2 linked regions of the Homo sapiens genome follow. The protein of the gene in region 2 purifies or fractionates together with the protein of the main gene of each other region. This does not show direct contact. Each region holds a gene or a part of one and is shown on either strand. Other genes may lie near its edges.

Evidence for each region.
Region 1: the proteins of GDF10 (region 2) and LRP4 purify together in Homo sapiens (affinity purification with mass spectrometry; 2 studies listed by BioGRID and IntAct, with this or other methods). This does not show direct contact.

What each region holds. Positions count from the first base shown.
Region 1 is NC_000011.10:46,854,888-46,861,009, reverse strand, and holds the end of LRP4 (low-density lipoprotein receptor-related protein 4 precursor), read left to right. Parts: intron 1-19; coding exon of another isoform or gene 20-64; exon of another isoform or gene 65-81; intron 82-1,694; coding exon 1,695-2,027; 3' UTR 2,028-4,293; downstream 4,294-6,122. UniProt on the Homo sapiens protein: Mediates SOST-dependent inhibition of bone formation. Functions as a specific facilitator of SOST-mediated inhibition of Wnt signaling.
Region 2 is NC_000010.11:47,308,850-47,315,518, forward strand, and holds the end of GDF10 (growth/differentiation factor 10 preproprotein), read left to right. Parts: intron 1-946; coding exon 947-1,872; intron 1,873-3,751; coding exon 3,752-3,943; 3' UTR 3,944-4,728; downstream 4,729-6,669. UniProt on the Homo sapiens protein: Growth factor involved in osteogenesis and adipogenesis. Plays an inhibitory role in the process of osteoblast differentiation via SMAD2/3 pathway. Plays an inhibitory role in the process of adipogenesis.

The DNA.
Region 1 (6,122 bases), on a different chromosome or scaffold from region 2:
TTGTGTGTTTCTTCCTCAGCAGCTCTTTCACCCCTCTGATAGTCTTTCACCTTTTCTCTTCTGATTTCCTCTTGATTTCAGGTACCTGTTGCTGTGTGTTTGTAGAGGGAGTGGTGTTTCCCAAATTGCAAGTGCCATATCCCCCACCTCTCCCTAACTTACCCAGCGTGTCTCTTAATTAAGACATTGAGTGGTCTGCATCTTATACTAATTTCATCTTGGAGGGTGTGCTGGGTGAACAGACATCTGTGTGTTTGCTTGTGTGCTATGTCCCACTCTGCATGGCTGAGGGGACTGTCACTCTCAGAGGGCAGGGACCATGTTTTATATTGTATAATCATCAAAGCACCTAGCACAGTCTTCTGCTTAACATAGGGGCTCAGTAAATATCTGTGGAATTGAATTGTTACAAAAATAGAGCCACAGCCACAGTTGCAGAACTCTTGGCAGGAATACTATCCCAGGGACAGAACCCAAGATGATCCATTTTCTTCTAGCAGTGGTGGTATGTCGGTTGGTATACCCCAGCAGCCAGGAGTGAGGCTGCTCTTTGAAGAAGCCATAAAGGGAGAGGCCCGAGCAGAACTCCAGGCTGTGCCTGGAAGAGTCCCAGGTTTTGCTTGGGAATGGTCCCAGGACTCATGGCAGCAGAGCGAGAGTAACCTCCCAAAAAAGGTTATAAGTTGCAGGACCCCACTATATTGACGTTTAGGACCCAGATAAGAAGATTTCCTTTTTTTTAGTTTTTTTTCTTTCTTTCTTTCTTTTTTTTTTTTTAATGGAATCTTGCTCTGTCACCCAGGCTGGAGTGCAGTGGCATGATCTTGGCTCACTGTAACCTCAGCCTCCGGAGTTCAAGGGATTCTCCTGCCTCAGCCTCCCAAATAGCTGGGATTACAGGCACCCGCCACCAAACCCAGCTGATTTTTGTATTTTTAGTAGAGATGGGGTTTCACCATGTTGGCCAGGCTAGTCTCGAACTCCTGAACTCAAGTGATCTGCCCGCCTGGGCCTCCCAAAGTGCTGGGATTACAGGTGTAAGCCACCACGCCCGGCCAGATAAGAGGATTTTCTAGAGTCCCCTGTCTTACCTCCCAAGTTTTCTCCTTAACAAAATTAGAAAAAAGAGATACAAACTAGCACCCGAAGTAGCTTAAAATCCTGAATAAATGTACATTTAATTGCTCTTGCCAATTGCTTTTGATGATTTATATCAGCATGATGTCCCATTAATAAACCACAGTAACAATGTAACATAGCTAACATGTTATAGTGCATCTTGTGTCAAGCTCCCTGATAACTGCATTCCATGTATCATCTCATTTAAGGTGACAGCAGTTGGTTGTGAGGTGTGGATACTGTTACTCTCCTCACACTGCAGAGTCTTAAGAGACTGAGTTTTAGAAATGTGAAATAATTTGCCTAAGGTGACAAAGCCAGTGAGTGGCTGCTGCAGGACCGGAAGCCATGGTTTTCCCTCCTCCTGTATGGTAATGGTAATAATTATCACAGCTGCCTCTCCCCTTTTAGGCTAGGCCTCATACACTTGTCTTAATCACATTTCCCCATTTGTTTGTGGGATTTTTGTGCGCTTCACTCCTACTCTTACCCCATCCACTTCCTTTTTCAGTTTACCATGGGATCCTTTGTAGAAGGCCAACTGACTGACCATATCTGCCCACTCTCCACCCTAGGGAGGGCCTGACCATAACTACACCAAGGAGAAGATCAAGATCGTAGAGGGAATCTGCCTCCTGTCTGGGGATGATGCTGAGTGGGATGACCTCAAGCAACTGCGAAGCTCACGGGGGGGCCTCCTCCGGGATCATGTATGCATGAAGACAGACACGGTGTCCATCCAGGCCAGCTCTGGCTCCCTGGATGACACAGAGACGGAGCAGCTGTTACAGGAAGAGCAGTCTGAGTGTAGCAGCGTCCATACTGCAGCCACTCCAGAAAGACGAGGCTCTCTGCCAGACACGGGCTGGAAACATGAACGCAAGCTCTCCTCAGAGAGCCAGGTCTAAATGCCCACATTCTCTTCCCTGCCTGCCTGTTCCTTCTCCTTTATGGACGTCTAGTCCTTGTGCTCGCTTACACCGCAGGCCCCGCTTCTGTGTGCTTGTCCTCCTCCTCCTCCCACCCCATAACTGTTCCTAAGCCTTCACCGGAGCTGTTTACCACGTGAGTCCATAACTACCTGTGCACAAGAAATGATGGCACATCACGAGAATTTAGACCTGGATTTTACCATGAACCTCACATCTTGTACTCCATCCTGGGCCCCCTGAAACTGCTTATTCGTGATTCCTCACCAGCGTAGAGCTCCACCTCCCCTTTCCCCAGTACCCTCAGTGCCTGCTTCTCAGTGCTGATGCAGCTGATGACCCAGGACTGCGCTCTGCCCCATCACAGCCAGCATGACTGCTTCTCTGAGAGAACTTGCCCATCAGGGGCTGGGACATGGGGGTGTGGGTAAAGACAGGGATGAAGGATAGAGGCTGAGAGAAGAAGGAAGAATCAGCCCAGCAGGTATGGGCATCTGGGAAACCTCCAGCCTCAAGTGTGTTAGTAACATGAAAAAGCTTTGGGGGGTAGTTGGATCTGGGTGTCTGGTCCATTGCTGGCAGTGGACATTATTCTTGCCCTAAGAGACACTGCCTTTTCAGCAGCAGATACTGGTGAGATGGGGGTGGCTCAGGCTGTTCTTCCTCCTCCTAGAATGTCTGGAGCTGTTTCTACATTCAGATAACTGGGTCCCCTATCACAAGGCTACTGGCTAATAGGAATTCCCTCCTGGTGCCACCACTGGCCAGTACCTTTCCTAAGTCTTTGCTCAAATTAACCAGGTTGTGAGCCAGTGGCTTGAGTGAATGTTAGGCCTTGGGGGCTGAGTCTCTGAAAAGTCTAAGAAGCTCTGCCTAGACCAAATATGGTATACCTCCTGACCCCTCTCTCCCTCATGTCCTGGGATTCTGGGGAAGAGACCTAGAAACAAGCTTTCAAAGAAAAACCAGAAGTTGTCATAAATGGTCAGAAAGAACGATCAGGTTGGAGACTTGGGAAACCCAGGGCCTAAAGAGAAGTATCCATGAGGGTCAAACTTCCTGTTGAACTTCCTATGTTCTTTCTCAAGTGCTCAGGGATCTAAGTTAGTGGACAGCAAGCCTGTGGCTACGGGGTGGTGATGTTCCTCTTCCAGCTGTCCCCTCAGCTAAGGGGCTTAGTTTCCATGTGGGATGCCATCACTTGGTTCATGCTCATTCACACAAAGGGCACGTGTCTCAGCCTGGTATCAGGGAAATTGAGACTTATTTTTGCCCTAAAACGTCTCCCTAGCTGTTCTTCGTGGGGTTTTTTTGTTTGTTTTTTTGCCTAATTTGCTTTTTCTGACCAAGCCTTGTGGCACCAGCAATCTCCAAAGTCCTGTGGTGGGAGGGCTGAATAAATAAAAATACAAAGAGGTGGGTAAGGAGTAGGAAGGTAGAGAGCACCACTGATGAGGCCCTCCTAGCCCATGGCAGACCCAGACCTCTTCTCCCCCAGGAATTAGAAGTGGCAGGAGAGAACAACAGGGGCTGGGAATGGAGGGGAGAATTTCTAGGGGAAGTTTCCTGAGTTGAAACTTCTCCTGTGGTTACTGGTATTGAGAAATCAGCTACCAAAGTGAAAAAGGACAAGATCAATTCTTTTCTAGTCAGTTCTAAGACTGCTAGAGAGAGATACCAGGCCCTTAGCCTTGCTCTCAGTAGCGTCAGCCCCAGTTCTGAGCCTCCCCACATTACACTTAACAAGCAGTAAAGGAGTGAGCACTTTGGGTCCTTAGACTCACGTCTGGGGAGGAAGAGCAAGTAGAAAAGTGGCATTTTCTTGATTGGAAAGGGGGAAGGATCTTATTGCACTTGGGCTGTTCAGAATGTAGAAAGGACATATTTGAGGAAGTATCTATTTGAGCACTGATTTACTCTGTAAAAAGCAAAATCTCTCTGTCCTAAACTAATGGAAGCGATTCTCCCATGCTCATGTGTAATGGTTTTAACGTTACTCACTGGAGAGATTGGACTTTCTGGAGTTATTTAACCACTATGTTCAGTATTTTAGGACTTTATGATAATTTAATATAAATTTAGCTTTTCTTAATCACCTTGCCTGGCTTGGAGTCATGACTAATCCTGCACCTGCTCTGTCTGGCAGACCCATGCTGTGGAAAACCTGCTTACAGACATCACTTTTAAGTCCTTTGTGGATGTGGGCACAGTGAAGAGCAATAAAGAGTGTGAGGTTCCTGCTGGAGTTTTCAGCTCATCTGGAGAAGACAGGTCGAGGCCAGAGTTCCTTGACTGATGAAACCTTTATTTCCTCTGGAAGAGGAATGGTAGATGGGTTTCCTCTTGAGTGCTGACTCTGACTGGTTGGTAGTGGCTGCCTGAGGGCCTATTCGCACCCAATGGGAAGAATGTCATATGGCTAGTGACATCTCTTCTGTGCACTGGAAGGAAATGTCATGGCATGTATACCATGTATCTTCTATTTCTGTTCTAGGTCTTTGTTACAGAACTTTACTTTGCCTTGCAGTGATGGTCACTGGCAAGACTATCTCATGTAGTAAGAAAAGTACTGGAGCTGGGGACATGGAGGGCTAATTCCAGTCCCAGATCTGCCACTAGCTCTGTTTGATCTTAGTCAACTTTCATAGTTAGTCTGAGAGTGGATCAAATTATCACTAGGATTTCATTTATTTTTAAAAGCTGTCTTTTCATAGCTCATCCACTACTTCTCAAGGCTAGAACAAGGAGCTAGGGATCCCTTCTCAGGTTCTCTGGATGTGATATCCCTCAGTGAAAACTGGGAATCATGTTAATCTCAACGCCCGATGTAGAATTTCATGTCAAGTCTCAATAGTTGATTTTCTAAACCACACACCATCTATAGGATAATATCCCCATTCATTCATTCATTCATTCATTCATTCATCTGCTATGGGCTAGGCACTGCCCATGCCTAAACAAAGACATAATCTTACAGAGCTTAGAGTCTAGCAACACCATTACCACCACCATCCCAAAAAAAGACAAAAAATGAAAGTAAGAAAGACTGAAGCTTCTTGTATTTAAGTGACCAGAGATCTGAGTATAAGCTACAGTGTATAATTTTTCTAACTGTAGTAAGGAGTAGGTGTGCCAGAACAAAAACAAGTAGAATAGCCCAAGGATAACCATCCCTCCAACCCCCACTGTTCTCTTTGGGAGGGAAAAAAAAAGCAGAAAAGGAGGACATCTTGGGATAAAACAAAGGTTGGGAATTCCTTGTCTAGTTCTCTGGTATAAAATCTGAAACTAGGGTCAGGCACAGTGGCTACACCAAAGTAATCTCACCACTTTGGGAGGCCAAGACAGAAGTAAGGAGTATTGCTTGAGGCCTGGAGTTCACGATCAGCCTGGGCAACATGACAGGACCATATCTCTACAAAAAAATTTAAAAATATTAGTCAGGTGTGGTAGCTCATGCCTGTAGTCCCAGCTGCTTGGGAGGCTGAGGCAGGAGGATTGCTTGAGCCCAGGAGTTCAAGGTTACAGTGAGCTATGATCACGCCACTGCATTCCATCCTGGGTAACAGAGCAAAACCTTGTCACTAAAAAAACAAAACAAAAAAACCCTGAAACTGATAAGTGAGCAGATGGTGGGTCAAGTTCTAACAAACTGGCCATATTTTTGCAAACTCACTCAAAATACAGTCACGGTCTGTCTATGGTGTATGAACAAACTGTGGAATCTAAAATGAAAGGATCTCTGGCCCATAGAAAGGACTCTGGATAAACTGAAGCTGTCACCAAACGTAGGCCTAAATTCAATGCATAGGAACTCAGAGGCAGCATCTACAAAAGCTGAGGGTGCACAGGTTTCTAAGTGGGTTCTAAGAGGGTTCTAAGAGGACCCAGTAATGCACTGATATCCAAGGTTATCCAGGGTCTCGCTCTGTCGCCCAGGCTGGAGTGCAGTGGCACAATCTTCTGCCTCAGCCTCCCAAGTAGCTGGGACTACAGGCGCCCACTGCCACGCCCAGCTAATTTTTTGTATTTTTAGGAGAGACGGGGTTTCACCGTGGTCTCAATCTCCTGACC
Region 2 (6,669 bases):
CTCACTGATATATAATAATGTTTAGGCGATTCAAACCTGACACAATACTCATGCTGCTGCCAAGGTTGGGGCAGCTTCCTGGGACTGCTGACATGGCTGTGCTGCCCTGGTGCCCTGGGGAACGCCTGCTTCCACCAGGCAAATAGGAAGGAGTGGCCGGCAGCCCCAGGGAAGCCGGAGCTGGAGCATTCTTGAACCAAGTTGCAGATGTAATGGTTGAGACGTCCCGGTCTTTACCTGGACCTTGGAGATTTAGTCAGGTTGCCTTGTGTAATCCTGATGCTGCTCTTTTCTTGTTAAAACAATCTTAAAAGTCCTCAGGCAGAACAAAGAGCAGATGCCTAAATGGCTGTACTTTTGATCCTGGTTTCCCTTAGGAGGTGCTCAAAAAGCATGAGCGTTTATTTATTTCGTCTCTTTTGGAAGAATGTTTGGGTTTAATGTGAAGTGTATTTAATGATTGCATTTAAAAACTGATTGCATAAATAGAGGGCTGTGCAAATACAGGAGGGGCTGCCTTGATGCAGGGCTTGGACCCAACCCAAGCCATCCTGAGCACTTAATGAAGGTGTCAGTGACATTTGTTCATTTGTGCATGCAGAGGCAGTAGAGGGCAGGGGGAGCAAACAGGAGCTTTGGAGTCCAGCAGGCCCGAATGCCTCCCTGTCTGCCCCTATTTCTTTGCTGTTGCTTTTTGTTGTTGTTGTTGTTTGCTACGGGATATTGACAATCTCAACCTTAATTCCTCACCTGTGCACTGAGGATTGCAAAGGGCGCCCTCATCAGTTTCATGTGAGGATTACACGAAAGGAGGGAAGCAAAGCGGGGGAGGAGGATGGTCCTGAAAGTGTGGATCGGTGGGCGTTTGCTCCTCCAGCCCTGGGTGGGAGACCCTCAGGAGCACGAGCGAGAACTTCACAGCCTGTGGTCTCTCCTTCCCTCACAGAAGTGGTCGACCAGAAGGCCGTGTATTTCTTCAACCTGACTTCCATGCAAGACTCGGAAATGATCCTTACGGCCACTTTCCACTTCTACTCAGAGCCGCCTCGGTGGCCTCGAGCGCTCGAGGTGCTATGCAAGCCGCGGGCCAAGAACGCTTCAGGCCGCCCGCTGCCCCTGGGCCCGCCCACACGCCAGCACCTGCTCTTCCGCAGCCTCTCGCAGAACACGGCCACACAGGGGCTACTCCGCGGGGCCATGGCCCTGGCGCCCCCACCGCGCGGCCTGTGGCAGGCCAAGGACATCTCCCCCATCGTCAAGGCGGCCCGCCGGGATGGCGAGCTGCTCCTCTCCGCCCAGCTGGATTCTGAGGAGAGGGACCCGGGGGTGCCCCGGCCCAGCCCCTATGCGCCCTACATCCTAGTCTATGCCAACGATCTGGCCATCTCGGAGCCCAACAGCGTGGCAGTGACGCTGCAGAGATACGACCCCTTCCCTGCCGGAGACCCCGAGCCCCGCGCAGCCCCCAACAACTCAGCGGACCCCCGCGTGCGCCGAGCCGCGCAGGCCACTGGGCCCCTCCAGGACAACGAGCTGCCGGGGCTGGATGAGAGGCCGCCGCGCGCCCACGCACAGCACTTCCACAAGCACCAGCTGTGGCCCAGCCCCTTCCGGGCGCTGAAACCCCGGCCAGGGCGCAAAGACCGCAGGAAGAAGGGCCAGGAGGTGTTCATGGCCGCCTCGCAGGTGCTGGACTTTGACGAGAAGACGATGCAGAAAGCCCGGAGGAAGCAGTGGGATGAGCCGAGGGTGTGCTCCCGGAGGTACCTGAAGGTGGACTTCGCAGACATCGGCTGGAATGAATGGATAATCTCACCGAAATCTTTTGATGCCTACTACTGCGCGGGAGCATGTGAGTTCCCCATGCCTAAGGTAGGGTTTCTTCCGCCTTTTGCCAAATTCTAAGGCTCAGCTCTGCCGCTACCGTCAAGTTCCTCAGCCTGCAGGACTTCTGTTTCCCCATCTGCAAAATGGGAATAACAGTACTTCCTATCTATTCCAGGCAGGAAATAGGTAGACATAGGTCACCAAGTGGCAGCCCGTAGGGTAGTTGCCGCCCACATATGTGTGAGTTTGGCTGTGTTTTTTGAAGTATTGGCTTGGTTGAATTGGGACTTTAAAATGAGAACATTCTTTTGAAAAGCAGGAGAATCCATGTCTTTAGAAACGCATCCCCACATAGCAACTATCTGCAGAGGTTGAGTAGATGCTGCTTCCTGTACACACGGCAGGTCCCAGAAGCTCCCTCCTGACCAAGGCTCTCATTTCTGTTCCCAGCCTGGACCCCAGAGTGTGGCAATCTGTGACTAGCACAGTGCTAGCCTCAGCAGCTCTCCCACTGTAGATTCCCTCCTCCTTGCAGCTCAGGGCAGGAATCCACAGGGAATAGGCCTTCACTGTGCACAGGGTCTGCAGGACACACAGCACTGGGCTGTTCTGTCTGTTGCACCAGCCTAAGGATTTCCAGTTCTCACCTTCGCTCCAGACTGGGCTGTGGCTGAGTCCATCCCTCTCCCTGCAGCCTGCTCTGCAGCAGCCTGGCTGCTTGTGATGTCAGCCCTCGGCACTCAGCACACAGTTTCTTCCTGCTTAGTTACTCTGCCCAGGGCAGGTCATGCCTTTCCCTCCAAGAAAAGAAAGTCAGTGCATAAATCCAATTTGAACTTAAATAATCAGCCAGCTGGGGAAGTCCAGACCCAGACATGGGGCAGCAGTAACGTGTTTGGGAATTAAATGGCTTCTCCTCAAAACTTCTCCTCAAAACCGTGCATGTGCAAGAGAGAGGGAGGTGCCTGACATAGAGACGGAGCCTGCTAAAAGGGCCTAGCAAAGACCCAGGCAGATGCAAGCCCGGAACCCTGAAGGCTTGCAGCTGGTTGGCCATGCGGTTAGCTTATCACCCTGGCTTGCTGCCTCCCCACCTTCCGGGACACCAGCCAGAACGCTGCAAAGGCAGGTGTCCCTGCCCTGCTCCCTTCCCACCACACCCACACAAGAGGGCTTCCTCCTCAACAGCACTACATATACAAATCTCTGTTTGGCTGGTGATGCACTGAAGTGGATGACCCGGTTGGTTCATCTTGTCAGAGGTGGGCACAGTTTTCCAAGCCAGGTCACTTTCTAACTAGGGGTCTTGGTCAAGTTACTCAGTCATTTTAAACCTCGGTGTCTTCCCAGTAAAGTCCAGGTAATACCCACCCCATAAAATTGCTAAGCTGACAAAAAAAAGGGGGTGATGCAGGGAGAGCAGCCCCTAGGAAATGTCAATGTCCAGCCTGTCACACTGCCACGCACATGCCAGGCCTTCCCTTCAGTGACAAGAGCACAACCTCGTGAGAAGCATGCCTGTCCTCCTCAGACTGCGAGACCAGGGCTGTGCTGGCATCTCGCTGGGTTTTCCCTCTGGGCAGCTTCTGCCTGCTTCCTGGTGCTCCGCGGGGATGTGTGACACTCAGGCGCCCCCATGTGGCCCTGCCGTGTTGGGGACACAGCGTGCCTCAGGGAAGCCAAAGGGCAGGAAGGCCTGGGGGCTCTTGGAGACCTCAGCCCGGAACTCAGCGTATGTCTGATTTTAGAGGAACCGTGTGCCCCGCCTTGGGATCTCGTCCATTCCTCTAGGTGGATGCCTATTCTGTGGCCTCAGCCGGGGAACAACAGCAGAGCAGTATGGCCTGGGACTGTGAGGATGGCATGGGTGCGTGGGTGGGTGAGGGCGGAGCTGAGGTAACCCTACTCCTTTTCTGCCTTGCAGATCGTTCGTCCATCCAACCATGCCACCATCCAGAGCATTGTCAGGGCTGTGGGCATCATCCCTGGCATCCCAGAGCCCTGCTGTGTTCCCGATAAGATGAACTCCCTTGGGGTCCTCTTCCTGGATGAGAATCGGAATGTGGTTCTGAAGGTGTACCCCAACATGTCCGTGGACACCTGTGCCTGCCGGTGAGACCACTCCAGGGTGGAAAGAAGCCACGCCCAGCAGAGCTGCCTTCTCGGAGCCTTCTGCAACCAGGACTTGTGGTGCAGCTGCAGACACAGAGCACAGCTCATGGGCAACATCACTGGGGCCCAGAGAGAGCTGTCCGCCAGTGCATCATTAGGGGGTCTTTCATTGCTAGTGACTAGCCCCTTAAATGCCAGCCTGAGTACCTGAAGGAATCTGGGAATTAGCCCTGGCCTGAAAGTGGCCCATCATTCATACCCACTGTTCTGAAGGCTTGAAAACAAAACATATCCACAACATTGGCTTGATGTGATCATCATCTCATAACTGAGCAAGAAGACTATGCAAATCTTAGGGCGCTCGCTCCCTGCACACGGAAAGAACTCTGTTTAAATGCTCAGTTCAGAACACTTTGGGCCACATAGTGATTTTGGAAAACAGGATAATCGTGGTGTAAATGAGTGTTTCCTTTCAAAGTCCACTGCAGAGCTTTTATCCATATGGTATGCACATGTAGCCAATATTGGTTTCTTTTTCTTAATATATATATTTTATTTTAAAACAACAAAAAGGGAGGGCGTTGACACCATTCCCCACAGAGATAGTCATGCTGAGTGTGGGTTGTTTAAACATGCATATTGAAATAACACATATAGTAACGTGGGAATACTAAAAAATAACCAAGATTTTATATTTTTGTAAATTATACTTTCTATACTGTAGATTGTGTATGTTATGTGTTTTTATGGAAAGCTAATAAATTAAAGGTACAGTGGTATCTTGAAAAACTGAATGTCACCCATTTCAAAATCTCACTGGCTCCCCATCTGTAAGTACACCATCTGGTGGTTGCTGGGGTCTCAGCCTCTTTTAGGGTCGCTGGAGTCCCCTAAGCCATCTCCATACTCCCTGGTGTCTGTCCCAGGCTCCAGAAACCCAGGCTTTCCCATGCTTTCCAGGGGCCTGTCCCACTACTGGTTCCTGCAAACCCAAGCTAGGCTGATGTTGAGAATGGACATGGCTCCAGACAGGGACAGTGGCCTCTCGGGGTTTCTCCTCATCCCCTAGCCTCAGGGACATGGATTGATTGGGAGGTGCCTGGGGTGTTTAAAAAAACATCTATGGTTGCCTGGTCAGAGATCTTTTACTTCTGGTAATTCATGGAGCAAGAGATTCAACATAAGTAGGGGTCTCTCCTGAGGTCCAAGGACTCATGAGGAAGTGGACGGGCCATGTGGTCTCCTGCACCTGCTTCTCTTTTGCTTGTGTGTAGAAGGATCACCCAAGCCACCCCAAATTGTTCCCTTATGCCCTTCGTTTACATTGCCTTATGATGGAGTGCCTGAAGCTGCTTAACCAGCATTTCTGAAAGAGAATCTGGATCCAATTTGAGACAGGTGTATATATAGCAGTCCCATCAGCTGGGACCTACAGATGACGTGGCCCCAAGTCTTAGAGGAAACTGCAAAGCCATAGTGGTTTTCTAAGAGGGGATGTCCAAGGAGAGAAGCAGCTCTGGTGTCTGTCTTGGGCCTTAGGCTGGGCTCTGGAGACCAGGATTCCTGTGCAAGGGATATATGGGGAAGTGCTCTCAGGAGACATGGGCAAGGGTGAGGTGAAGCAGAAAAGCAGGCTGGGAGCAATCCTGTGGGGAGCTTTGGAGCTTAGTTACTCCTCAGGGCAGTGTGGCCTCGAGCAAGGGAGCTGGGTGTTCAGGGCCTCTTGGCTTCTGGCTGCCCTGGGAAGGGCGATGTAAAGTCCCAGTTCCCTGGCCTTCTGCCCAGGCAGCCACAGTGATTCCAGGAGCCTAGGTAGCATCCGAAGAGTGGCAACTCCTGGAGGCGAAGCCATTGAAACTGGAGAATGATTAGCCAGAACTGGTAGGTGAGGGGGATGCGAGGGTGCCAGGGTGAAGCTCCGCAGCTTCTGCTCAGCATCTCCTATGAGGTGCTCCAAGTGACCCTGGGACACATGCGTGAGCAGCTGCCGTGGGGACCCCTACCTGCTGGGCACATGGCCCTGCCTGCTGACAGAGGTCAGGGGAGTGGTGGGATGGTCCTCCACACTCACCACCTTATTCCCTTACTCCCACAGGAACTGGACATGGGACCAAATTGTTCCCTTCAAGCTGCTATAGGTTGCTGGGCTGGCGCAAACTGGCCTGCACTTTAGTGCTTGGTTTGCCATGTCTAATTCTCTTTGGAACATGACAGGATATAAGTTAATAGCAAAATAAGTAAAAATATTGGGGCTTAATAAAACTCCAAGTCCCTTTCTTCTGAATATTCCATCCCTCATTTTCTTCTCATTCAACTGCCCCCTTTCTATTTTTGCTAAACATGGGCTGTCCAATAGTAGTTTTATCTTATTCTTTCTAGCACTTGCAGTTTCTGGGAGGCCTTCTGGATTCCCCCCAAATACCTGGAATGCCTCTGAGTCCTCATGTCTGGCTTACTGGGATTGGGGAGGGCAGGCTGGGACACTCTCCCTGGGTCCAGCTGTGGGCATGGCCTCCAGGCCTGTGCCTGGATGGAAGGTGCTCAGTTGTTGCCATCTTTCCTGGGCATGCCCTGAAGACCTTGGAATGTGAAATGGGGCAGGTCCCAACTGGGGACATGACATGTCCCAACTCTACAGTAGGAGAAGCTGGTATCATTAGTGACCCCTCCAATGTATAGAAGACCACGCAGTTACAGGATCTTGCTTAGCCTCACAGCAGCCTTGCAACT